6 separate regions of the Homo sapiens genome follow, and regions 1, 3, 4, 5 and 6 are each linked to region 2. The links come from fine-mapping of genetic effects on gene expression. A gene starts in region 2. Each other region holds a variant in brackets. All regions are shown on one strand. Distances are between the middles of the regions. Region 1 overlaps SIRPA (signal regulatory protein alpha). Region 2 holds the start of SIRPA (signal regulatory protein alpha). Region 3 has its middle 92 kb from the start of SIRPA. Region 4 has its middle 54 kb from the start of SIRPA. Region 5 has its middle 82 kb from the start of SIRPA. Region 6 overlaps PDYN-AS1 (PDYN antisense RNA 1).

What was found. PIP is the estimated chance that this variant, and not a neighbour inherited with it, causes the effect.
Region 1: its variant is fine-mapped to the expression of SIRPA in whole blood (TOPMed, PIP above 0.99). The same link has a PIP of 0.9 or more in monocytes.
Region 3: its variant is fine-mapped to the expression of SIRPA in whole blood (TOPMed, PIP above 0.99).
Region 4: its variant is fine-mapped to the expression of SIRPA in whole blood (TOPMed, PIP above 0.99).
Region 5: its variant is fine-mapped to the expression of SIRPA in tibial artery (GTEx, PIP above 0.99).
Region 6: its variant is fine-mapped to the expression of SIRPA in whole blood (TOPMed, PIP above 0.99).

Annotation. Positions count from the first base shown.
Region 1 is chr20:1,935,464-1,939,550 of GRCh38, reverse strand. It overlaps SIRPA (signal regulatory protein alpha), which reads right to left. Exons shown (of 8, transcript NM_001040023.2): 8 at 1-2,231. The coding sequence ends at 1,983. Among named protein-coding and RNA genes, the nearest start is that of PDYN-AS1, 9.7 kb to the left of the region's middle. RefSeq lists enhancers at 1,376-1,928, 1,929-2,483. The variant C/A (reference allele first, on the strand shown) is at 1,710.
Region 2 is chr20:1,892,989-1,897,067 of GRCh38, reverse strand. It overlaps SIRPA (signal regulatory protein alpha), which reads right to left and starts at 1,661. Exons shown (of 8, transcript NM_001040023.2): 1 at 1,542-1,661. The coding sequence starts at 1,620. It overlaps LOC102724545 (a long non-coding RNA gene), which reads left to right and starts at 2,818. Exons shown (of 4, transcript NR_186374.1): 1 at 2,818-2,949. RefSeq lists an enhancer at 501-1,016 and silencers at 2,308-2,427, 2,438-2,697.
Region 3 is chr20:1,801,008-1,805,094 of GRCh38, reverse strand. No RefSeq gene overlaps it. Among named protein-coding and RNA genes, the nearest start is that of SIRPA, 92 kb to the left of the region's middle. RefSeq lists a silencer at 1,474-1,723. The variant G/C (reference allele first, on the strand shown) is at 1,748.
Region 4 is chr20:1,839,385-1,843,471 of GRCh38, reverse strand. No RefSeq gene overlaps it. Among named protein-coding and RNA genes, the nearest start is that of SIRPA, 54 kb to the left of the region's middle. The variant C/A (reference allele first, on the strand shown) is at 1,776.
Region 5 is chr20:1,811,374-1,815,460 of GRCh38, reverse strand. No RefSeq gene overlaps it. Among named protein-coding and RNA genes, the nearest start is that of SIRPA, 82 kb to the left of the region's middle. The variant G/A (reference allele first, on the strand shown) is at 2,141.
Region 6 is chr20:1,960,680-1,964,766 of GRCh38, reverse strand. All of the region lies in intron 2 of PDYN-AS1 (PDYN antisense RNA 1), which reads right to left. Among named protein-coding and RNA genes, the nearest start is that of PDYN-AS1, 16 kb to the right of the region's middle. RefSeq lists an enhancer at 1-205. The variant T/C (reference allele first, on the strand shown) is at 1,945.

The sequences.
Region 1 (4,087 bases), 42 kb before region 2:
CACGTATGTGCTGTCTCTGGGTAAAAGAGAGGGAGACGAAGGTTTACAAGCCAATCTTTTGGAATTTGGAACTAGCCTGAGCCAGGTGGCTGGGTCACTGTGGCTCCCAGATGCCACACGGGAGCTCTGGCCAAAGCTGTCCACATGGTCTGTTGGCTCAGCTAATTCCTGGATGCCATCATTGAAATCACCAGGTGACCATCCCCCAGAGAGCTGGGTCTATGCTGAGCTCCTGCAGTTTCACCTGTAGGACCTCCAGGAATGGGCAGGATGGCTCAGCTACTTTTACAGCCTGAGCCAGAAATCCCTTGGGCATCCCAAGGCCAGGAGTCATGAACATTAGCGTCTCAACTCTAAGAGTTATAGTGAAGACTGAATAAATAGGGCTTGCGACATCTGCTTGCCCTGGGCCCGGTCAGGCCCTCACACCCGACTGGAAGGGTGGGGGTTAAAGGGTAACTGGGTCACACCCTCTGGCCAACCTTCTGGGACAGAGGGGGAATCAGCCCGAGCTTCACAGCTGCACCATCCCCCTGGCTGTCTTCAATTTATTCCAGTTTGATCCCAGTAGGGTTTGAGAGCAGAAATGGAAGATTTCTTCTTCAAGGATCAGCTCAGAAAGCCGGGATGGGGGCGGTCACTAAAGGGGTAGGATAGACGGCCAGGGCCACTATCCCTACCCTCTGTGTGTTCCTAAAGTGCTTATGAGAGGTGGTGGGGAGGGGTGTCATCTTCACTATCCCCACTTTACGGATGAGCAGACTGAGGCATTGGGTCTCGATAAGACTGCACTGTCAAGAGGCAGCCCTCAGCAGCCCTGGGCAGGCTGGACTTACCACAGCGGGGTCACAGAAGGCTGCACTACCAGCCGCGTGGCTCAGCTGAGAACATGGCCAAGTCAGTCCCAGCCAGAAGGCTGTGTCTCCAGGGAGTGGCTGACCTGATCCTTCTTGCCCATTCTTGGGGTTCTGGGACTTGGAGGAACTCAAGTCTTCGCTGTAAGAAAATCCCTCCAGGACAACAAACTGTTAAACCTCAGACTTCACAAGACCCAACCATGGACTTCAACACATGACAGACAGCCAAGATCACGTTGCTGTTGTTTTAAGAAAAAAAACAAAACAAAACACCACAGATCAAGTTTTCTAACACCTCAGTTTCAAGATTGCACGTTTCACATTTCTCAGTAATTTACAGGCGTCCACAGCGAGATGTTGCTTAGTGCTAGCTGGAGGGGCAAGCTCAGGTCTAGAAGGGAGAGATGGGTCCGGGTGGAGCAACACAGTTGGGCCCCAGGGAGTCTTGGAGGGACCCAAGGAAGCAGAGGGTTTTGTCTCCAGTCCTTTGGGAGGGGTCCTCTCCTCCTCCAGGACTCATGGCTCTTTAGCCTAGGGATGGGGGAGGCCAGGACTGTTGGCAGCAACCTCACCAAGCCTGGATATGGGTTCCAGAGTTTTTTTCCAGCTTTTCCATGGAAGGGGCAGTTTGATCTAAAGGGGAAATCTTCCCCACTCTAGCCCCAGTTGGGTGGTGGTGGTAGTGGTGGTGGTGGTGGTGGTGGTGGTGGTGGAGGTGGTGGAGGTCAGGGGAGGTGGGATTTTCTCCTCCCCACCCTGGAAGATCAGGCTTCGGAGCATCGGGGAGGCAGTCGAGGGTCTTCAAAACCCACATGGTGATGGACGGAGGCACAAGAGTTCTTGGACCCCAGG[C/A]AGTTCTGGCCACTTCCCAGGTTGGTTCCCTGGCTGGTTTGGCAACGTCAGCCTCCAGGTATGTGGCAATGTGGGGGGAGGGGGCCGTGGCTGCCCAGGAAGTGCTGGAGAGCCAAGGAGGGGTGGGGAGAGAAGAGCCACCCTGGCCCCTGGGTCCCAGAGCCTGCACCGCCCCAGCCCTCCGGGAACTGGGTTGGCTGTGCTCATCACGGCGGCTCCCTGTGGGACAAGAAAGCGCGTAGAGATGGGTGCTAGAGCAAACCACGGTCCCATTCACTTCCTCGGGACCTGGACGCTGGCGTACTCTGAGAAGGACGGCTCAGGCTTGGGGGCCGGCTGCTTGGGGGTCCGGTTGAGGTGGACCATGTCCAGGTCAGCATAGGTGAGGGTGTCCTCCGACGCGGGCTGCGGGCTGGTCTGAATGCTGGCATACTCCGTGTGGTTGTTGGGCTCCGCAGCCTGGGGAGCAGGCTTCTTCCCCTTGGGCAGGTTCAGGTCTGCATATGTGATATCATTTGTGTCCTGGATTTAAGATACCCAAAGAGAAAGTCATGAGAAGGTCATTCTATAGCCCCTGGCCCACTCACTCAAACTGAATACCAAGTCTGGATGCTTCTGTGTCCTCTCGGCCCACACTGGCTCAGCCATAAGTCATGTTCCCCTCATCTCTTGCCAACGTTACTTGCCTCCAGCCTTGCCCCTTCCCATCTGCCCTCCTCCTCACCCTGCCTGAAGGGTCTTTCTGACCCGCACAGTGCAGTCTCCTCACAGCCCCGCCTCAGTGTCACCTCCTCCCGTTCCTGCCTCCTCCTAGCCTGAACCACCTGCAGTCTTCACCCATTTCTCATGTTCATCCCTCGAGGGTGTCTGTCCTGCTTCTCCTTGTAACAAATCCCAATCCACCATGTAAATTTCAGATGAAGCATGGCTCATACTAAGACCCTCCCTGGCTCTCCCCTCTCCTGGCAGGGTCCATGTTCCTTCTTTGTGCTTCCTCAGCCCATGTTTGTTTTCCATCACAGGGCCCGCTACCCAGGACCATGTCTGTTTGGGGGCCTGAGGAGGTGCTGCTGATGGTGGTACGTGTGGGGACATTCATTAATGTATGCGTTTATTCCACAAATATTCACTGGGCATTTGTTATGATTCAGAAACCAAGGCTGGCACATAAGAAGTCTGATCCATATTGAATGAATATATGAGTGGATGGCAATAATTTCACCTTCACTCAGGGCAAAGCTGGGGACAGGGAGACAGAGAACAGGGGCAGTATAAGAACGAGATCGCCAGTTAGTGAAGCGGGAAACGTTCTGGAGTCAGAAAGCCTGGGTTTGAATCCTGGTTCTAGCTCAGGGATTTTGAGCAATTCACTTAACCTCTCTGGGCCTCAGTTTCTCCATCTGTAAAGAGGGGATGATAATAGTGTCTACTGCCAGGGTTGCTGTGAGGATGGAATGAGATTATCCAGGTAAAGCGTTTAGAACAGAGCCTGGTACCTATTGAGCATCTGTCTTCAATAAATGTTCGCAATCATTAACCACTTAGCAAACTTGGATACCTCCCATGTGCTAATCCTATCAACCTGCCACTGCCGCCTCAAAAGCGCCCATCATGAATGATAAACTTTGCTCCCTCTGTGACTGGCCCCTGCGTGATAGAACAGAATAAAGCTACCACCAACCGGCACACCTCCTAGTTGGTGCACGGTAATGGCTGATTTCAGTTCTCAGGGCTTACAAGCAGCACACAATCACATAGATCACCCCATCCACTCTTACCACAACCCTGCTTGGGAAGGATTATCTATTCCACTTTACGGCTGAAGACACTGAGACCAAGGGAGGTTCAATAAAGTGGACAAAGTTGTCCGGCTGGCAAAGAACCAAAGTGTGTTGGACTCTACGACTGTGCTCTTAGCACACAGCTCCTCTGTCCTGAGCCCTGCGTGCTCTCATTTGCTTCTGTCTGGGAAATCCGTGTTGACAGCGTGCAACTCCCTCCCTGGCCAGGGCTGGCACCTGGCACTGGAATCGCAGGCACTCTGCCAGCTGGGCTGTGACTGTCTGGCTCACTGTCCAGTGCGTGGCACACAGTGGGTGCCCAGTAAGTCTCTGCTGTGAATTTCGTAGAGGTTTCCATGACCCATTCTTCTCACCATCATTTTTTTCCCCCAGAAGATTCCAGGAGGAAGTCCAGAAGTAAAATGATGGGGGAGAAGATCTCCCTCGCTCATGACTGGAAATTGTTTTTTCTTAATTACAACTCGAGCTCATGTCCGGGGCTGCGGGGGGACCCCATGGGTCACAAGGGCAGGGCCAAGGCATTTTGGTCTACAAATGCTGCGCCTTTCACCAGCCCGACTCCTTCAACAGATTACA
Region 2 (4,079 bases):
AGCCTCCTGGTCGGAGAAGGGTCTGGAATAGACATTTAGAAATTAACTCGGGCCCAATTCCCTGCTTCAGGAAAATTAAGCACTTGTGAGTGACACTTGTGCATTTCCAGGCCAGGAAGGATGGCAGGGCAGGAACTCGGACTTTTGCAGGGTACAAATGGCCAGCTCAGGCAGGAAGGAGCAGATAGGAGATGCCACTCACTGGAGAGACGTGAACTGTATCAGTGCTCCCTTCAGCCCAGCAAGGACGCAACTATAACTGAAAAGAACTGGGGGTGGAGGGTGGGGTGGGGTGGGGGGATGCCTATGTGAATTCCTGGGTTTCAGGGGAAACTGCAGGGCAGAGAGAAGCAGCTGTCTACCCCCCATACTTCTCCTTCCACCCACTCTTTGCTAGTTCTCCCTTTCTCCCTGCTATCAGATGGTTACCATCTCTAGTCAAACGCAAAAGGGGGTGTTGGACACTGAGCTCATCTTTACCTCCCTCCTCAAGGGTGGGAGGTACAGAGAGACCCCACTGCCTACAACACAGTTTCAAGACGACAAAAAACAAGATCCCCATTTTTCTCTCCCTCCCAACTCCCTTAATGCCATTTCTCTGCTCCCCCCGCCCCCCACCCGGTGCCCTCCCAGGAGACCCATGGTTTTGCAAAACCCATTTAAGAAGCAAGACTCCTGAATGGTGACCTCACCCTTTGGTGAACATGCACAGTAGCCTTCAGAGCCCGCCTGCCGGCGACAGCCAGGTGTTTGATGTAGGCCAACAGAAAGACATGGTCAGAGCCACAGGTAACATCCCCGCGGAGCACCTGAACTGCAGGGAGCTGCCTGGAAGCTCGGGGAAGGCAGGAGGAAGGGGGAGCTGGGAGCGCCTCAAGGAGCAAGACCACCAGGGAGAGGCTTTGGCAACCACAGGGACAATCCACCGTGTTTTTACATAAGGATCTGTTGCTCGCAGCAGCTCGCTCTGGGGTTACCGCGGCCTCCCGGCTCCCTCTCTCCCAGGCACACACTAACACCGGTTTACTCTGCGCACCAGAGGGAGGGCTCACTCTTCCCTAATTGCAACAGCTTGTCTCTGTTCCATTCCAGGCAGCATCGGGAGGACCTCTGCCCTCACCTCCTCCCCTCACACCCTGAAGTCAAACATGTGGAAAGTCGTATGTCCATGGGGACAGATTCTGGGGAAGCCGGACGGCCCTGCTCTGAAAGCCACTGTCAGTCAGCCTTCCCCATTGGACCGGGCAGGGGCTGAGTGAAGCAACTCGGCTCTTTTGTCTCAGTGCCCAGCACAGTGCACAGAGTCAGAGTCCACAGAGACAAACTCTCATAGAAGAGACTTGGGTTCTACCCTTGGCTGTGTGACCTTGGGCATGTCGCTGGCCCTCTCTGGGCCTCAGTTTCTGCATCTATAACCCTGGTTACAGGCGTCTCTCCCCCTATTACTGCTCGGCATTAGCCGAAGGGGTCCCAGTGCCAGTCTGAGAGGCCTGAGCCCGCAGTTTGGGGAGTGCAGCGGTGGGGAGCGGGGGGGTGCTTACCTGACCAGGCGCAGGACGCGGCGAGCAGCAGGCAGAGCAGCGGCCCGAGGCGGCCGGGGGCCGGGCCGGCGGGCTCCATGGGCCGCGGCTGCGGAGCGAGGAGGGAGAGCGGCCGTGAGTGCGCGCTCGGGCGGGAGCAGGCTGGAGCGGGGAAATGACTAAGGCTCCCCCCCTTCCCCCCTCCCGGCTGGGCCTCCCCCCGACTCCGGAACGGGCGCCTGGAGCGGCCGCCGCCGCCGCCGCGGTTTTTGGAGACCCCCCCTCCCCGCCCCCCAGGAGAAATGGAGAGACGGAGACTGGGAGAGACCCCAAGCGCGCGAGAAATAAAGCCAGGGGCGGCCAGAGAGAGGCGGCAGGAGAGAGAAACAGACCCAAGGGAGCCAGGCAGAGAGCCAGAGACACGGAGAGGCGAGAGGGGGAGAAAGAGGGGGAGAGCGAGGAGCGAGGAGCGAGGCGGCGCGCAGACCGACAGACCGCGCGGGAGAGAGGACCGCGCGAGCAGGGGCGAGGGGCAGCACGGCCGAGCCCGGCCGCGCGGAGCCGCCCCCGCCGCTGCCCACCTGCCCCGCCCGGGCTCCACACGGCGCGGGCGGCTGGGCTCGCTCCCGGCCCGCAGTCCCGGCCGCTGCCCCCGCCCTCCCGGCAGCCCGACCCCCTCCCTCCTTCCCTTTCCCCTCCTCCCGTCTTCCCGCCGCCCGGGGAGGCTTCGGGGCTCCGGCCCCGCCGGCACCTTCTCTGCGAGCGAGCGCCCGCCTGCGCGCCCCGGGGGAGGGAGCGAGGGCTGCGAGCTGCGCGCCCGGCCGGGGAGGGCAGCGTCCTCCCCCGCGCCGGCGCCCGGGCCCCGGCTGCTGTCCCGGGAAGGCGGCCCCGCGAGCCGCCGCGGCCCGCTGGGGCTCGGGACTAGACGAGCCTCCGGCTCCGACAGCGTGCCCGTTCAGAAGCCCGCGCGGCTGGTCCCCAGCCCCGACCGGTCCCGCTCTGCCCCTCCCCGTCCCTGCCGGGCCCGGACCTGCGCCGCCCGCGAGGGCTGGAAGGCACTGGAAGCGCCGCCGGGGCTGCCCAGAGGCCGGGTCCCCGCTCCACTTTGCGCAAACTTGTTTTTCTAAGGTCAGCGCTGCGAGCTGGCTACATCGTCCTCTTAAGGTGGACCGGGGAAGTTGCGGCCGACCTCCCCTCGCCTCCGGACTCCGGCCGCGCGGCTGCTCCCCGCTTCCCACTGGCGAGAGGCTGGAGGCGGCGAAGGAGTCGGGGCGCGGGGGCGCGGGGGGCGGGGGGGCGTCTGCCTTTTAACCCTCCCCAGGAGGTCGTGCCTCTGAGCCCCAAAGCTGAAGGCCCCTCTTGGGGGTGGGTGCGGGCCGGAGGGGCCCGATCCTTTCAGAGCCGGGCCGAGGTGAAGGAAAAGAAGGAAGTAAGTGAACGCAGGGGGAAGGGGAGAGGAAGAAGAGATGATGGTACAAAAATAGCGTGTGTGTAGGAAGGACTTCGGTGCCGCCTGGAAAAGAGGCGCGGGGAGGAGAGGGAGCGAGAAGGGGGCTGTGGCGCGCAACCAGAGGGGAAGGGTCGGGGCCTTCCCAGGGAGGTGGAGGCCCCCTGGCCAGGTGTCTCGGTGGTGGAGGGCGGACTGGGCGGGTGGGAGGCCCAGGCCGGGGCGTGTGTGGGAGAGCGGGGCCCTGAAGGCCTGGGTTCCGGGAGAAGGACAAGCCCTGAGGAAGATGAGGGGAAGGGGAGCCGGGGCCAGAGGCCTGGAGTTGGAGAGGACAGAACCCCGGTTTTCCCGGAGGGAACGCCGTTCCTGTAGTAGCCAGGTCAGTGATGGGGAGTGCCAGTGTCGTGGTCACCTGGCAGAAGGCTCCGCACTGTGGGAGGAACACAAGTTCAAGACCCCGCTGCTAATGGGAGAGAATTTTGGTTCACACAGTGGCGGTTAAGAGGACAGGAATGACACAAGGTGAGAGAAGGCCCAACCCTGTAAATGGACAGAAAGTTGAGGCCCGGAGAGGGAATAGGTTTGCTTAAGGCCACACAGCAAAGCTTGGGGTAGAAACAAGATTTGAATTCCTGATTCCCAGGTTAAAGACCTGTGCAAAGTAACACCACTGCCTCCCCTCCTGCCCCGAGCCTCCTGGTGAAGGCATGGCCCTGCTGTTGTGCAGGGGGGCAGGGAAGGTGCCACACTTGAGAACATGGGCTGAACTCCGTGGGTTCAAATCCCCCGGCTACTGTTATGAGCTGGGTGGACTGGAAAGTGCCTTACCTCTTCTGTGCCTCAGCTTCTTCATCTGAGACGAGGCCAGCGTGAGTCTCAATTGTGAGGATTTGATGAGTTAATATTTGTAAGACATGTTAAAAAGAGCCTAGCACATACCAAGTGCAACATAAGCATTTGATAAATAAGTGAAGTGTTTGACAACAGTCCTTGAGAACCCACAGGGTTCTGGGCAGCATTTGAAGTGCAAGGGAATTTTCATTTCTCTGGGTGTGGGAGAGCACGAGGTCCCTGTCCATGAGGAATTTATATTCTACTAGGGGAGACAGGTA
Region 3 (4,087 bases), 92 kb after region 2:
AAGTCAGGGCCTCAGTCTTAGCCCTATCTATAAGATGAGGGCTTACCTGATCTGACATCAGGTAATGTTGGAGACTTGGTGTACGTCCTCAGGAATGTCCTAGAAGCCAGGAGGTCAGATGAGGAGGGGCAAGCTTAAGGCCTAAGCAATCAACTTCCTCCTTGAACCTAAGGCTGGCAAGGCAGGAAGGGCACCCACCCTCTGGTCCAACTCCATCCACGCAACTCCTTCAGTGGCCATAACAACACAACTTCCCATCACACCTAGAATAAAAGTCCAGCTCCTTGCCGAGACCTGCAAAGCCTGCTACCCCCAGCTGCTGACCATCTCCAGTCTCCTTACTACTGCTCACTGAGTTCCATCCTTATGTTCATGAAACCCCACATCTACTCTCCCACCTCAAGGCCTTTGCCCTTGCTGTTTTCTCTGCTGGACACGCCCAGCTCTTTGCATGGCTAGTTCCTCTCACTGTGCAGGCCTCAGCTTACTCTCTTGCACAGAGACGTCCATTGACATCCTTTTAGGAGCAGCTCCTGTCTAGCCCCAGCTCTCTCTTGGGCGTGTCACCACTTTACATCCTTCCTAGTACAGCCAAAACTGGTGTAATGGAGTGTGCAAAAGCTTCCACTTGGGGCTGGACTGGCTGGGTCGAAACCCAGGCTGGGCCCAATATTCTCAAGTGCCGAGCCTACCTACTGCGCACTTGAGGCTATTGTTCAACCTGGTTCCCCACATATCGTGCAACCTGTTGTTTCTCCACCTATCGTGCAACCTGTTTCTCCACATATTGTTCAACTTCCTATTTCCCTTCAATAGATTATTCAACCAGCATTTTCCTATCTGTACAAGGGAGTGAGGATTACATGACCTAATGTGCATATAGCATAGAGCAGAGCCTGGCATAAGCGCTGCATTGGTGTTTGCTACGATATTAACACTTGTTGCTATTTGAAATTATTTTGTCTGTATGTTTCTTGTTTATTTCCCTCTTCTCTCTGACAGGCAAACTCCCCACAACAGCCTCCTCAACGCTGCCTCCCACAGTGCTTGGACAAAATAATTACAGCAAGATGCGGGCACTGAGCTGACTCCTTATGTAGGACATCCCAGTGCAGGTAGAGAAACTGAGGGACAGTTGGAGGTTCCTTGCCCTTGGTGATGCGGTGAGAGGGCCTGCAGGCACCAGCCCGGCCGCCCGCACCGCTTCTCGCGGACCCCAGCGGAGCCGCGCTTCTCGTGCCGCTCCTGAGGGTTTCCGCGGCGCCGGCGTTTTTGTTCCCGGCGCGTTTAAGTCGTTGAGGCCGAATCAAGCGAAGGCGGAAAAGCGGCGCGCAGCCCGCGTCAGCTGCAGTTCCGTCCCCCTGGTTCCCGGTGCGCTAACAAAGGCATTTGCATGAAAACAGGAACCCCGTCTGCAGAAAGGACTCGTTGGCGGGGTGCATCGTGCGCTCCAGTGCCCCTACCGCGGCGCCCCGCTCCCCAGGTGGGGAAGAAGCGGGGTGCGGGGACTGGCCCCAAACACGGCTCGGCCGGCGGGGACCGGCACGCTGCGGCCCGGGCGACCCCCTTCTCCGCCCCTTTCCCAGGCCGGCGGAAACGGCCGTCTCGGGCGTGGGCGCGCTTCTGCGGACTCCTCGGGACCTTTTACCCAGGCGTGCGGCCGGGGCGCCCGGGGCCTCGGGGAGCCGGCGCCAGCGTGCGGAGCGCAGCGGAGCGGAGGGAGCGGCGGGAGCGGCGTCCGTGGCTG[G/C]TCCAGGTCTGGGGCGCAGCCTCCAGGCTCGCCCTGCGCCGCTCTGGGCCTCGGCCTCTTCGCCTGTTCGACCGGGGCGCAAGCGTGTCACAGCGCCTGTCTGCAGGGGGAAGCGGGCTTCCCAGAGGGGCGCGTGGCTCGCAGAGGGGCTCCGGGAATATCCGCTCCGTTGGCCCTTTCCAGAGCTTTTCCTTAGCTGCTTCTCCTTTGAAATCCGCCTTTTTCCCAGCAGCCCTTGGAGGCAGGATAAATTAAGTGGTAAAAGCAGAGGATTAGGAACCGGGAACCCTGGATTCAAATCCTGCCCGCCGCTGACCAGCTTTGTAACCATGAGCAGGTTACTCCGCCTCTGGAGGCCTCAGCTTCCCCGTCTGTAAAATGGGGCCTAACACAGTCCAGAAAGTGCTTAGTGCCGCAGTGTCACACACCGAGTGCTTAATTCATTCTTAAAATTATCACTTCCAGCTGTGGGACAGGCGCAGGGTAGAAAGGGGTTTTCTTAAGGTCACAGGCGGGGTCAAAGGCAAACCCTCCGGGTCCTCACAAGTAAGACTTGCGAAGCAGCAAGTTCCCCAAAGGGTCTTATCCAGCCGGGTAAGGAGCGCCGGGGCATCTCCCCCCTCTCTCTCCGCGAAGACGCACAAGCAATGGCTGGCGAACCTACTGCCTGGAATGGGGTTCTTGGGTCGAGACCTTTAAAAAAATAAAGAAGAGGAAGAAGAAAGAAAGAAAACAAACAAACATGCACGCAAAAACGGAATGCCAGAGCCTTTGATCTAGGAGCCAGCTTGCTATTCAGGGCCGACCACCGTCTCGCCGCAGTTCCTCCCCGGGAAGGAAGCCTCGCGCTGCCCTCCGGTGGCAGGCGAGGTAGTGTCGCCTGGGCGCAACTCACAAGCAGGGGTTTACCGGAGAAGCCAGCTTCGCTCTGCGCGGGTGGGGGCTGTGGGGGAGAGAGGAGGGAAAATCGGAATTGTTCCCTGACTGCTGTTTTTTGGTCCCGGTGGATCTTGGGAGTCTTGGAAAGAGAATAATAAGGCTCTCTGCATTTGAAAGGCATAGGAGTTTTTACATTCTGGTTTTATTTATTTTTGAATGGATAACACATTTACACGATTCAAAAGATAAAAAAGAGGATAGCGTGAAAAGGAAGTCTCGCTTCCACTCTTGTTCCCCAGGCACCCAGTTCCCCTTCCTAGAGACAGCCATTGTTACATGTTTCTGTGTACCCACCCGGAGACAGTCCATGCAAATGCAAGTATTTTACAGGATCAATAGTAGCTTGCTCTGTATACTCTTCTGCCTCTTGCTGCTTCGCTTAAAAATGCATCATGGAGTTTGTTCCATGTTGATTCACATAGGGCTGCCTCGTTCTTTTGAACAGCTGCATAATATTCCATTGTTTGGCTCTCCTGTAATTATTTGATCAGTGTTCTATTGATGAGCCTTGAGGCTGCTTCTAATCTTCTGTAATCACAGTGTGTTACAACAAATAAGCACCTACATGCATTGTTATGCCTAGGTGCCAGTGAGGCACATAGCTATTGCGGTATAACAAACCACTCCGAAATTCAGTGGCTTTAAATAGAAAGCTTTTGGTATTGCTCATGTGGGTCAGCTGGGTAGCACTGCTGATCTGGGCCAAGCTCAGCTAACTTTGCATTTGCTCCTTGTGTCTGGGATCAGAAAGGGTGGGTCAGCTGGGGCTGGTTTATTTAGGATGGTCTAAATCACATGTCTGGTAGTTGACTGGCTATCAGCTAGGGTTAGAGGGGTGTTCAGGCTATGTGTCCGTCAACATCTGATAACATGCAGTGCCTCCTGAGACTGTATAACTGGTGTGAATTTACATCCATTACATTCTGTTGGTGCAAACATGTCACAAGCCAGCCCAGATTCAAGAGGTGGGGAAATAGAAATCACTTCTCCCAGGGAGGAGCAGCAAAGTCACACGGCAGAGTATGATGCAAGGGCCCTGAGGTATTGTGGCCATTTAAAAATATATTTATAATGTTATAGTTAGCATTATGGTGATAACATTACCTTTGGATATAAACATTACCTTTGCCATTACCTGACAGACGTTACCTCAAGCCTCAAGGCTCATCAACAGAAGACTGATCAAATAATTAACAACAATAATAATTAACAACAACAATAATTTCAACAGAAGACTGATCAAATAATTAACTAGGCCATCAGGGTTGACATTAAGTGATATTGATATTGATAGCATATTCTCTTGATATAACTTTTTGAGAATGACACTGTACCTCTGTGGTTTTCCTCCCCCAAACCAGTCTAATAATAACCCCAGTCTAATAATGAGAATAGCCTCAC
Region 4 (4,087 bases), 54 kb after region 2:
GCATCACCTCAGAGCTCTTTTTTAAAACTCACATACCTATGATCTGCATGGTAAGAGTTGCATGCAGCAGCTGAGTGAACTCAGTGAACCCTGAAAGGGCCCCTTGACAGCCACTCCCCCATCCTCTTTGCCCACCCTCCTCCCCGGTTCACCACTGTATGTTGGTGGACATGTTTCCAGGCCTTTCCCATATATTTACATCTGCACAGATATAACATGTGTGTCATAGGTATGCATCATACATCAATAAGATCATTCTCCATTTATTTGATAACTATTCATTGAGCACCTACTATGTGCCAGGCATTGTTGTGAGGCATGAAAAAGTGAGATTCCTACCCTCCAGAGCTGACACTCTAACAGAGTAGCCAGCAGACAAAGCTAAAGTATTCTTCCAGGTAGTGATATTAATACATGTTATGAAAGACATACATTTAGGTAAAGGGATAGAGGAGGATAGGAGTGGGGTTGTGGGGGGGTGCTTTCAGTCCAGGGGGTCAAGGAAATGTCTCCTCTGAGGAGACATTTGACTTGAGCTTGGAGGATGGGGAGGAACAAGCCCTGCAGATATCCAGGACAGATTCTTGGTAGAGAGGACATTGGGTGCCAAGGCCCCAAGCATGGCATGAAATTAGTGGGTTGGAGAACGAGTGAACAAGCCAGCAGGGCTGGAGCAAAGTGAGCGAGGGGAGGGGCAGGAGATGGGTCAGGGAGGCGCAGTGCAGAACATATGGGGTGGCATGGGGAATGCAGGTTGGGGCATACAACCAGAGCCTCAGGAAGATGGAGCAGAGGAGAGGACTGAGCTAGGATTGGTTTCATTGGGGTTTTTTGGTGCAATTTTTTTTATTGTGGTAGAATATACACAGCATAAAACTGGCCATTTTAACTATTTTTAAGTGTACAGCTCAGTGGCATTAAGCACATTCATATCACTGTGCAATCGTTACCATCATCCGCATGCAGAGCTGTTTTATCTTTCAAAACCGAAACTGCACCCATTCAACACGAATTCCCCCGTCCCCCAGCCCCATTCTACTTTGCGTTGCTATGGATTTGACTACTCAAGATGAATCATATAAGTGGAATCATGCAGTATTTATCTTTTTGTGTCTGGCTTATTTCCCTTAGCATAATATCCTTGAGTTTCATCCATGCTGTACCGTGTGACAAAATTTCTTTCCTTTTTAAGGCTGAATAATATTCCATTATATGTATATACCACACTTTGCTTATCCATTTATTCATCTGCCAGTGGACACTTGGGTTGCGTCCTCCTTTCGGCTATTGTGAATGATGCTGCTATGAAGATGGGTGTGCGGATACTTATTTGAGACGCTGCTTTCAGTTCTTTTGGGTATAGAGCCAGATGTGGAATTGCTGGGTCCCATGGGAATTCTTTGACCTGGTATTTTATGTAACAGAATCCAGGGGCTACCAGGGGAGAACAGCCACCACGGAAGGGCAGAAGCTGGGAGGCCAGCCAGGCAGCAGTTGTTGCAAGGCGCCTTGTCTTACGTAACAACCCATCCTGCAGATCCCTCCAGGGTGGCACAGGGAGTTCTGCCTGTCTCTTTAATGATTCAGGGCACTTTCACTTTCATCCTTTATTTGGGTTCATCCCAGCTCTGGAAGTCAGGTGGGAAAAGGCCTATGATCCCCTTGGAGAGACAGGGACAAAGGGGCTCAGGGAGGGAGAGTGTCTCAGCCAATGTCACTGGGCTCTAGGACGTCCTCTAGGACGTCCTTCAACCCTGGGCCTGCCTTGGGACTGA[C/A]TCTGGGGGTAGATGACTCCCCTGTGAGTCTCCCTTCTATTCCCTACTCCTGCCAGGCAAGGCTGGGCAGCTGGAGAGAGCTCACAGCCAGAGCCTCTCTGCCAAGACATTAATGAGCCTGAAATCCAACTCAGGGTATCCCTGGGACCTGGAGAGTGAGAAGGAGGCAGCACCCTAATTAGCCACCATTCTTCTCACCTGCAGCTTAGGTAGCCCACCCCGACAGCACTGCCTGAGGCTGGGGGTGTCTCCCAGCAGGCTTAGGAGCCCTGAAACTGGCTGCTATTGGCTGTGTGTCCTCTTTCTGTGCCTCAGGCCCAGGAATGCATCCTGAGGAGGACAGTGAGAATTCCATCAGAGCCACAGGAAGTCACACCCCACCCGGGCTGGGGTCTGACCTGGGTTCAGGCAAATCTCAGGGCCCTGCCTCTCCTGGGATCAGTTCCTCCCTTTTTAAACTTTCACTTTTTGGCTGATGAAGCTTTGTGGGATGAAAGGAGGAATGGGAGATGCTGCTTCCTTGGGTCGGGGGAGCAGGATGGAGAAGGGGCCAGGCCCTGTCTCGCTGGTTTCCCTCCCTCCTATAGGCATCCAGGTCCCAGTCTCTTCTGCCCATTCAGCCCCTTCCTCCTTCCCTTCCTTCCCTGCATGATCTGTCCCGCCCCCACCAGCTTAGTCAGCTCAGCCACAGGGACCTCCTTGCTTTCTTCAAACAAACCAGGAGTGGGCCTGCCTCCGGGCCTTTGCACTCACTGTTTCCTCTGCCTGGAACTCTCTGTCCCAGATTCTATCTCATGCCTCCTTTACATCTTCACTAAAATGTGGCCTTTTCAATGAGACTTTTCCCGACTCTCCTGTTTAAAACTACAAATTGCCCCACTCCTCCCTGGCAGATCTCCACACCCTTCCCTGCTTTGATTTTTTCCACAGCACTTGTCGTCACTTACCACTGGCATATATTATATTCAGTTACCATTCTCTTTCCTCTAGATTGCATGCCCTGTGAAGGCAGGAATTTCTCTCTTGTTGGCTTCTGCATCCCCAATGGCTGGCACAGAATAGGAGCTCAGTAAAGATGTGCTGAATGCACAATTTCAAGGACCATCCATGGCCATTGCCATCACCCTGGTCCAGCCTGCAGCCACCCTTCCCCTGGATGCTGTGACAGCCCCCAATGCTAGGCTCCCGATGTCCTGTTTTGCCCCATCCAGGCAGTTTCCTGCCAGCAGCCAAAGTGAGCTACTTAAAATGCGATTTTGACCAGATGATCCCTGATAGAAACACTTTTGTGGGTCCCATTTTATGGAGAATGAAACCCACAGTACATCACTCAGTCTTCAAGTCCCTGCCTGCTCCGGCCTCCAGTTACTCTCAAACTCATCCCCTGTCTCCTCCCTCCATTGCAGCCACACTGATCTCCTTGGGGCTTCTTGGCCACATGGAGCCCTGCTCTGACCTCAGCGCCTTTGCACCTCCTGTTCCCGCTAACTGGGACACTCTTCTCTCTACCCTTTCTGGTCAGTTCCATCACATTCCTTCTGTCTCAGGCGAATGTCACCTCCTCAGAGAAGTGTTCCCTGACTACCCTAACCGGTTCCTCCACCGAGTCACTCTTAGCTGTTGCTTTGTTCCTATATTTATTGTCTTCCGAGTCACTCTTAGCTGTTGCTTTGTTCCTGTATTTATTGTCTTCCGAGTCACTCTTAGCTGTTGCTTTGTTCCTATATTTATTGTCTTCCGAGTCACTCTTAGCTGTTGCTTTGTTCCTATATTTATTGTCTTCCGAGTCACTCTTAGCTGTTGCTTTGTTCCTATATTTATTGTCTTCCGAGTCACTCTTCGCTGTTGCTTTGTTCCTGTATTTACTATCTTCCGAGTCACTCTTAGCTGTTGCTTTGTTCCTATATTTATTGTCTTCCGAGTCACTCTTCGCTGTTGCTTTGTTCCTGTATTTACTGTCTTCCGAGTCACTCTTCGCTGTTGCTTTGTTCCTGTATTTACTGTCTTCCGAGTCACTCTTAGCTGTTGCTTTGTTCCTATATTTATTGTCTTCCGAGTCACTCTTAGCTGTTGCTTTGTTCCTGTATTTATTGTCTTCCGAAGGAGACTGTGAGCTTCCTGAGGGTAGGTCCTTGTTAGCTTCCTGTTCTCAGCTCGGAGGAGGCACATGGCACATAGTAGATGCTCAATAATATTGTCTGGCTGGATGAATGAAGGTGTCTGAGCACACGCAGCCATTTTCCTCGTTATTCCTCCCTGTCCTCACAAGCTAGGATTGTGATGCCCTTTTGAAAGATGATGCGATTGGGTCT
Region 5 (4,087 bases), 82 kb after region 2:
CAAGTATTCAGAGCATAGGACAGAGAGGAGATGATATCAGAGGGATAAGCAGGGGCTGTTTCCTATAGGGGTTTGGAGGTCAGGGTTAGGAATATGGAAGCCACTGGAAGGTTTTTAACAGGGGAGTGACATGATATAAATCCATATTCAAAAGATTACTAAGTGCTTTGAGTAGAAGAGACTACTGGGGGCAAGAGTAGAAACTGAAAGACCAGTGAGAGACCCCAGTGTTTCAGTGAGAAATGATGGTTGTTTGGATTTAGATGGTGGCAGTGGGTCCATCTGTTTGTCTACCGCTTTGTTCTTCCCTCCTTTCTTCCATTCTTCTATCTCTTCATCCATCCATTCATCCATCCACCCATCCATCCACCCACCCATCCATCCACCCACCCATCCATCCACCCACCAACCCATCCACCCATTCATCCACCCACCCATCCATCCATGCATGCATCCATCCATCCATCCATCCATCCATCCATCCATCCATCCACCCTCCCATCCACCCACCCACCCATCCATCCATCCATCCATCCACCCACCCACCCATCCATCCATCCATTAACTAAACACTCAGAGCCAGGGGCTGTGCTGGGTGTGTCTATGGGGAGTCAGGTACAATGCTGAGATAACAAGAATGAAATACACATGGTTCCCAGCCTAAGGGGCTTACAAAACAGCAGGGTACACAAAATTGCAATGTAATGTTATGAATGCTCCAGTTAAGGAATGCATGAAGCACCGAGAGAGCTCATGGGAGGTAATTCCCTATGCTCTGTCCTGGAGGAGATACTGATGTTTGAGTTGGGCCTTTCGAAGGACACGGGAGTTGGACAGGCAGCAGAAGAGTGTTCCTGGCAGGGGCACACAGCTTGAGTAAAAAGCAAGGAGGCAGCATGAGTGAGCATGGCCGGTTCTGGAAATGTACAGATGTCTAGGTTGGTTGAATCAACAGATGCGAGTGGGGACGCTGTGGGAGAGGAGTTTGGGTCAACTTGGGAAGACGTGGAGCAGCATATGCCCATGACTGGGCCTGCCCCTTCCGCTCAGCTCTGCCTGCCCCTATCAGAGCTGAATAATTGAATTAAGTACCAGCTCTTAAACAAGATGCAGCTGTTTAGCAGATGTTGCTTCCACCCCAGATGGAGGTGCATCTTGGCGACGGGCACAACATTTCGAAGGCGTCTAATTTGTGAGGCTGTGGAGAGGAAAGAACTTCAAGATGCTGGCATTATTATTTAATAACCATCATTAATTACACACTCCCTCCCTCCAGCACCACTGCATGTCAAACATTCCTGCCGGATTGGGACTGGGGGCACAGAGGCGGGCTGGCAGGTGGGCTTGGGGGTTGGACTTGCTGGTTCTGATTCAGAAAAACAAAAGAAGAAAAGGGAATAAAGTCATCAATCCACAAAGCCTTCAAGAACTTTTATAATAATGGAAAATGACTTCTCTTGCATTTTTCATAAAATGAGTACAAATAATAACTGCTATTGATTGAACCCCCACTCAGAGCCAGGGGCTGTGCTGGGTGTGTCTTAGACATTGCCTCCAATTCCCTAATCCTCCCAACAGCCACGCATGGCCCTACCTCAGGGCCTTTGCCCTTGATGTCTCCTCCGACTGGGAAGGTTCTTCCTTCAGACACCCACATGGCTAACTCCCCTACATCTTTCAAAGCTCCACTTAAATGTCAGCTCCCCAGAGAGGCCTTCCCTGACCACCACTCCCTGAAATAATGTCCTCCACATTCTTGACCTCCTTCCCTTGCTTTTTCTTTCATCACCTGATATACGTATATTTGTTAATTGTCTATTTCTCCCTTTTAGATTTTAAGCTCCCAAGGGCAAGGATTTTTGTTTCATTCACTGTGGCCTCCCCAGCACTCAAAACAATGCTTGACACAGGACAGAGTTCTTTTTTCTTTTTTGAGATGGAGTCTGGCTCACTTGCCCAGGCTGAAGTGCAGTGGCACGATCTTGGCTCACTATAACCTCTGTCTCCTGGGTTCAAGCGATTCTCCTGTCACAGCCTCTGGAATAGCTGGGATTACAAGTGCACGCCACCATGTCCAGCTATTTTTTTTTCTTTTTTGGGGGGGTATTTTTAGTAGAGATGTGATTTCATCATATTGGCC[G/A]GGCTGGTATCCAACTCCTGACCTCAGTGACCCGCCTGCATCGGCCTCCTGAAGTGCTGGGATTACAGGCATGAGCCACCGTGCCTGGCCCAGAGTTCTATAAATATTTGTTCAATGGGTGGGTGATTCATCAGTGGGTCTCATTAAAAAATGTGCAGAAGAGTGTTAGGGAGATAAAATCTCTTTCCCAGGCATTACACAGCCAGCAAAGAGCAAGCTGAGATTTGAATTCAGCTCTGTCTAATTCTAAAGCTCTGCTCTTTTCATTAAGGACTTTGTTTTTCTTCTCCAAAGAACTTATTACCACTTACATATTATTATTATTATTTTTGAGACGAAGTCTTGCTCTGTTGCCCAGGCTGGAGTGCAGTGGCATGATCTCGGCTCACTGCAACCTCCGCCTCCCAGGTTCAAGTGATTATCATGCCTCAGCCTCCCGAGTAGCTGGGATTACAGGCATGTGCCACCACGCCCTTGTATTTTTAGTAGAGATGGGGTTTCACCATGTTGGTTAGGCTGGTCTCGAACTCCTGACCTCAGGTGATCCAACACCCCCCCCCCCACCCCTCGGCCTCCCGAAGTGTCAGGATTACAGGCGTGAGCCACCACGCCCAGCCCACTTACTTATTATTTATCTATTCATGTGTTTAATGTCTGTCCTTCCCACTACAATGGCAGCTCCACTGAGGGCAGAGTTCATCTGTTCTGTTCACAGCTGAATCCCCAGCCCCAAAACAGTACCTGGCACCCAGGAAATGCTTTATAAATATACGCTGAATGAAGGAAAGAAGGTCTGGGATATGGGAGGCTGGAGGTGTTCACACCCTTGCTGGGTCTCTGACTGGGTGAGACGGTGGGGAGCTCCAAGATGTTTTCCACTTCCCCAACCCCTCCCACATACAGACTTCTTATTCACTCTTGGAAGCAATGCTGCAAGGGAAGTATTATCCAAACCATTTTACAGATGGGGAAATTGAGGCTCAATCAGAGAAATGATTTGCCTTTCTCAAGGTCACCCAGCTAGTAAGTGTCAGAGCTGGGATTTAAACCTAGGTCTCCAGAGTTCACTTGTCATGCAAAAGGGACCCTTAATGCTTGCTAGCTCTGCCCACCCAAAGGCAATAGCTAGAAGGTCCAGAAGGTCCAGTCACAATCTATGCATTTCCCCATCAAGGTCAGGGGTGTCAGGACCAATGTGAAACTCATGCTTAATTCACAACTCCCAGCTTTGTCCATTTAAATGAAAACTTTCATGTTATTTTAACCAAAATCCCCTGTCGACTTCAATGAAAGCTTTGAATCCATGAGGAAGGTCAGAAAGGGTTTTTTGGAGGTAGCACAGGCGCCCAGTGGAAATCATATTAGCATATTCATTATCATCAGGGCCCTTTGAATGTGTTTTTGAGCTGTTCCCTTCAAGTGACTGGAGACAATGGCTCCTTTCTGTTCACAAATTCCTGGGCTTGAAGTGGGCTGTGGCCAGCTCCTGTGTGCTTCTCTGCACTTTCCAAATGGTCACAGGGAACCCGTGTCGCATAAGGTAACAGGGAGGATGTCATCCACCAGGAGTGCTGGTGGTGAATGAGGCTCTTTGTCTGGGTTTGGAAGAAATATCTCCTCAAGTCACTTAGGCAGCTATGGTGGACCCCAAAGATGGGCTCAGGTAACAAAATATGTTGTTAAACTGTCTTCTAAGGAGGCTGGACCCTATTAACAGGAGATCCCTGAGTGTGGCAGAGTCAGGGCTGGGTCTGGGGTAACAAGGTAGTTGCTCAACTCTAGAAAGTGCCAGGATCACCCAGGGAGCATTTAGCAACCATCAGTGCCCAGCACCACCTCACCAGGCCATCTGGACCCAAATCTTGGCGAGTAGGGGAGTAAACAGGCATCAAAGGTTTGTAAGTGTCCCCAGATGCAGACAGGCAGCTAGTAAGCAGAGCAGAATGG
Region 6 (4,087 bases), 68 kb before region 2:
TTCTGTAAGAGAAGAGACATAGTATGGGCTTTATAATTTTAAAAAAACCCAGGAGGGATTTCAGGTAGTACGAAAAGAATGGGGGGACTGGAGTGAATGAATACTTGTCGAGCCCTTATTTTTTCCATGTGGCTCTTATTATTCTGTCAGGGACATTGAAACAGGAGTGACTCCATCTTGAATAGGGGCTGGGTAAAATAAGGCTGAGACCTAATGGGCTGCATTCCCAGGAGGTCAGACAATCTTAGTCACAGGATGAGATAGAAGGTTGGCAGGACTAGTATCACAAGATACAGGTCACAAAGACCCTGCTGATAAAACGGGATGTGGTTAAAACAAAAAAAAAAGAGCCAAAACCCACTGAAACCAAGATGGTGATGAAAGTGACCTCTGGTCATCCTCACTGCTCATTATGCGCTAATTATAATGCATTAACATGCTAAAAGACACTCCCACCAGCACCCATGACAATTTACAAATGTCATGGTAATGTCAGGAAGTTACCCTATATGGTCTAAAGCAGGGAGGAACCCTCAGTTCTGGAAATTGCCCACCCCTTTCCTGGAGCACTCATGAATAATCCACCCCTTGTTCAGCAGGTAATCAAGAAATAACTGTAAGTATACTCAGTTGAGCAACCCACGCCACTGCTCTGTGTGTGCTTTACTTTCCTAATAAACTCGCTTCCACTTTATGAACTTCCTCTGAATTCTTTCCTGTGCGAGGTCCAAGAACCCCCTCTTGAGGTCTAGATCAGGACCCCTTTCTGGTAACAATCACATCTTTACCTTAGCCTTGACAAATAAAGGCAATTTTTCCATTTTACAGATAGAGAAACAGGCTCAGAGAAGAAAGGGGCTGAGCTCAAAGTGACATCATTGAAAAGCAAAGGGCTAGGATTAAAAACCAGGCTCCTAATATCAACCTCAGTGTTTGCCACAGCACTGGGTCAACGGATCTACCGACACTCGTTCATCCATTGATTTATTCATCAAATGTTTATTGAATACCTACTATGCACCAGATACAGTTATAAGCACTGGGGATACAGCCACGTCCACAACTGGCTGAAGAAATTAGGGCTACAAATATTGCTGGGTGGGGAGGCTCAGATGACCAATGATATTTCTTTACTAACTACTTTCGTTTATCAGCTCATTCACCAATCCATTTATTTTTTATTTTATTTTATGCAAAGTGTTTACTGACTTATTTATTCATCCATTCTCTCAGTCACTTATTTTCTTATTTACTTATTCATTCATCCACTCAAACATTGATTCACTTGTTCATTCATTCTTTTGATCATTTATTTATTTATTCACCTGCTCATTATTTGCTCATTCTACTACTCCATCAATCATTTACTCATTCCTTCACTAATTCATACTCTCATGTGTCTGTAAATCTCTCCATCCATCCATCCTTCATTCCTCCTATACATCCATCAATCTCTCATAAATCCATCCATTCCCCTGTCCACCCATATCTCCCTGTCTTCTTTCTTTCCTTCCATTTCTCCCTCCCTCCTTCTTTTCTCCGTCCCTTCCTTCTTTCTTTCCATCTATGGTTCCTCCAGTCACTCCTCCATCAATCCCTCCCTTCTTCCCTCTATCCACCCCTACATTGCCTGTCCATTCTTTCAGGCCTCATGCTGACCCTGAAAATTAAGAAATAATACAACCCATTTCAACCTCCAAGGCACTTACCATCTAGTAGTGGTCAGTGACAAGAAGAAAGGGCACCATATCACTGTGATTAGAAATGAGACAAGAAGCTAGGGGAGGGTGGCAGAGAGGAACCCTAAGTCACCTGAGGGCTGGGAAATCCAGGCTGAGTCCTAAAGGAAAAGTCAGCCGCATTGAGCAGGATGGAGGCAGTGGGAGTTTCAGGCAGAGGGAATCGCATATATACACGCTTGGAGGCAGAGCGGGCACAGCGTGA[T/C]TGGGGACGGGCAAGTGTGGCTGGATCTTAGGAAGGGCAGGGAGGCAGTGGAGAGATCACACCCACTACTCTCCCAGGCATTGCTTCCTGAGATTCTTAGCTTTGTGTATTGTGAGGATGGCCACATTTGGTGCTCGGTCTACCCTAGTCCCCCTCTGGCCTCCTCCATCAGCTTGACAGGGCAGTCCTATAGGATTGCAAGAAATCCAGGCTACCCATAGTGTCGTCGGTAACAGGGCTCACCTTTCCTCATCACTGTCAGAGCCAGCAGTGAAGAGAACACTGCCCAACCCCCCCAGGCTTCCCCTTTGTCTGTGGTGATACCCTGGGCTGTGATACCCCCACAGAAACATCTTCTAGATCAGCTCTAGCACAGACCTCCCCAGCTTCCACGCCTCCCCCATGTCTGATAGGTCTCCAGGCCCTGCCCCTTTCACCTCTTCATCACCTCCTCCTTGTCAGCCAGACAGATATTTACCTAACTCTGACCCCCATTAGGCCAGCCTCTCCCTACCAGCCCTGTCTCTCACTTCTCTTCCTCTAGCGGCTTCCCCCAGACCCCACATGCCCATTCCTCTGCCTCCAGAGTAGCCTCTCTGAAGCTCCAATATCCTCATGCCATCCACCTGCATAAAATCCTTTAAGGATACCTTGTTCCAGGCCAGGGAGTCAAGTCCAAACTCCCTGGCCAGGCATACAGATTCTTTATCATCTGGCACATGCTATTTCTCCAGGCTTGTCTGGCTCTTACATCCTCACGTGTACTATCCTTGCAGACCAGAGCCCCAGACATTCCCAACACATCCCACTTCTACTCACTTTTGCCACCTTGTAACTGTTGGAACTTTGCCTGTGGTGGCCTTCCCTGCCTTGTCCCCCGAGAAGACTCTTGCTCATCCTTCCAAACCTGGTTGGGTGCATCCATCAGACCTTGTCAGGATTGCTATTTTACCAGTCATCATATTTCATTGCATATCTGTCTGTCTCCCTTCACTAGACCGCAAGCCCCTGGGAGACACAAGCCTTTTCACAGTCTTCACTGCTTTCTCAGTGTCTAAAACAGTGCCTGACACACAGAAGGTACTCACTCAATAAGCATTCTATGGACAAATGAATGAATGAACGAAATATCTCTATGGATGTCTGGGTCCTCTGAGATTGTGTGTCCAGCCTGGCCGCTTATCCTGCCATGGGAGAAGCTCTGCAGACATTGGACAAAGTCTCACATGACATCAAGTGGGGAAAACAATCTGGTTGCTTGGCATTTAGGGCTGGTTTCCAAGCATTTGTCTTGACAGGGAGATCCTGTCTGTAATGCTGGCTGGCAGATCACTGTCCTGAGGGTGGGATGGGCCGCCCAGAGGTTACCCAGCTGCTAGGATTATGGTAGTCAGGTGAACTCCGGAATCAGAGCCAGTGATCTCGGGGAGAAGGTGGTGGTGAATGAAGACTCATTCAGAGGTGCTAGCAGCTGCTGTCTGAGATTAATTCAGTGCTGCTGTGCATTGACATTCCATAGTACATGTTGGGAAGTCTCCACTCTCTACTCCTGGCATAAAGCGTCCTGACTTCCATTTTGGCCCACAGAGAAGGGACCACATGTCTAAGAGGCAACAAAATGAGATGCTAGAGCACAGCTGCCAGGGCTGCCCACCCCCACCTCTGTCTAGGAGATGACCTCGGCAAGTTCCAATCCGATAATTTCTGCCTCTTTAATTTGGGTGTTTAGACCATTTACATTTAAGGTGATAATTGATATGGTTGGGTTTAAATCCACCATGTTGCTATTTATTTTCTGTTTCCCCCATTTGTTATTTGTTTCTTTTTTGTTCTGCTTCTTTTTTAGATTAATATTTTTTATGATTCCATTTTATCTCTTTTGTTGGCTTATTAGCTATAATTCTTTGTTGAATTATTTTAGCAGTTGTTTTGGAGTTTATAATACACATCTCTAACCTATCACAGTCTGCTTTCAGATGATATTATACCACTTCACATACAGAATCAGAACCTTACAACATTATACTCCCATTTCTCCCCTGTTGGCCTTTGTATTGTTTTTGTTATACATAGTATTGCTTCATATATTATAAACTCCACAGTACACTGTTGTTATTTTTGCTTTAAATAGTCAAATTTGTTT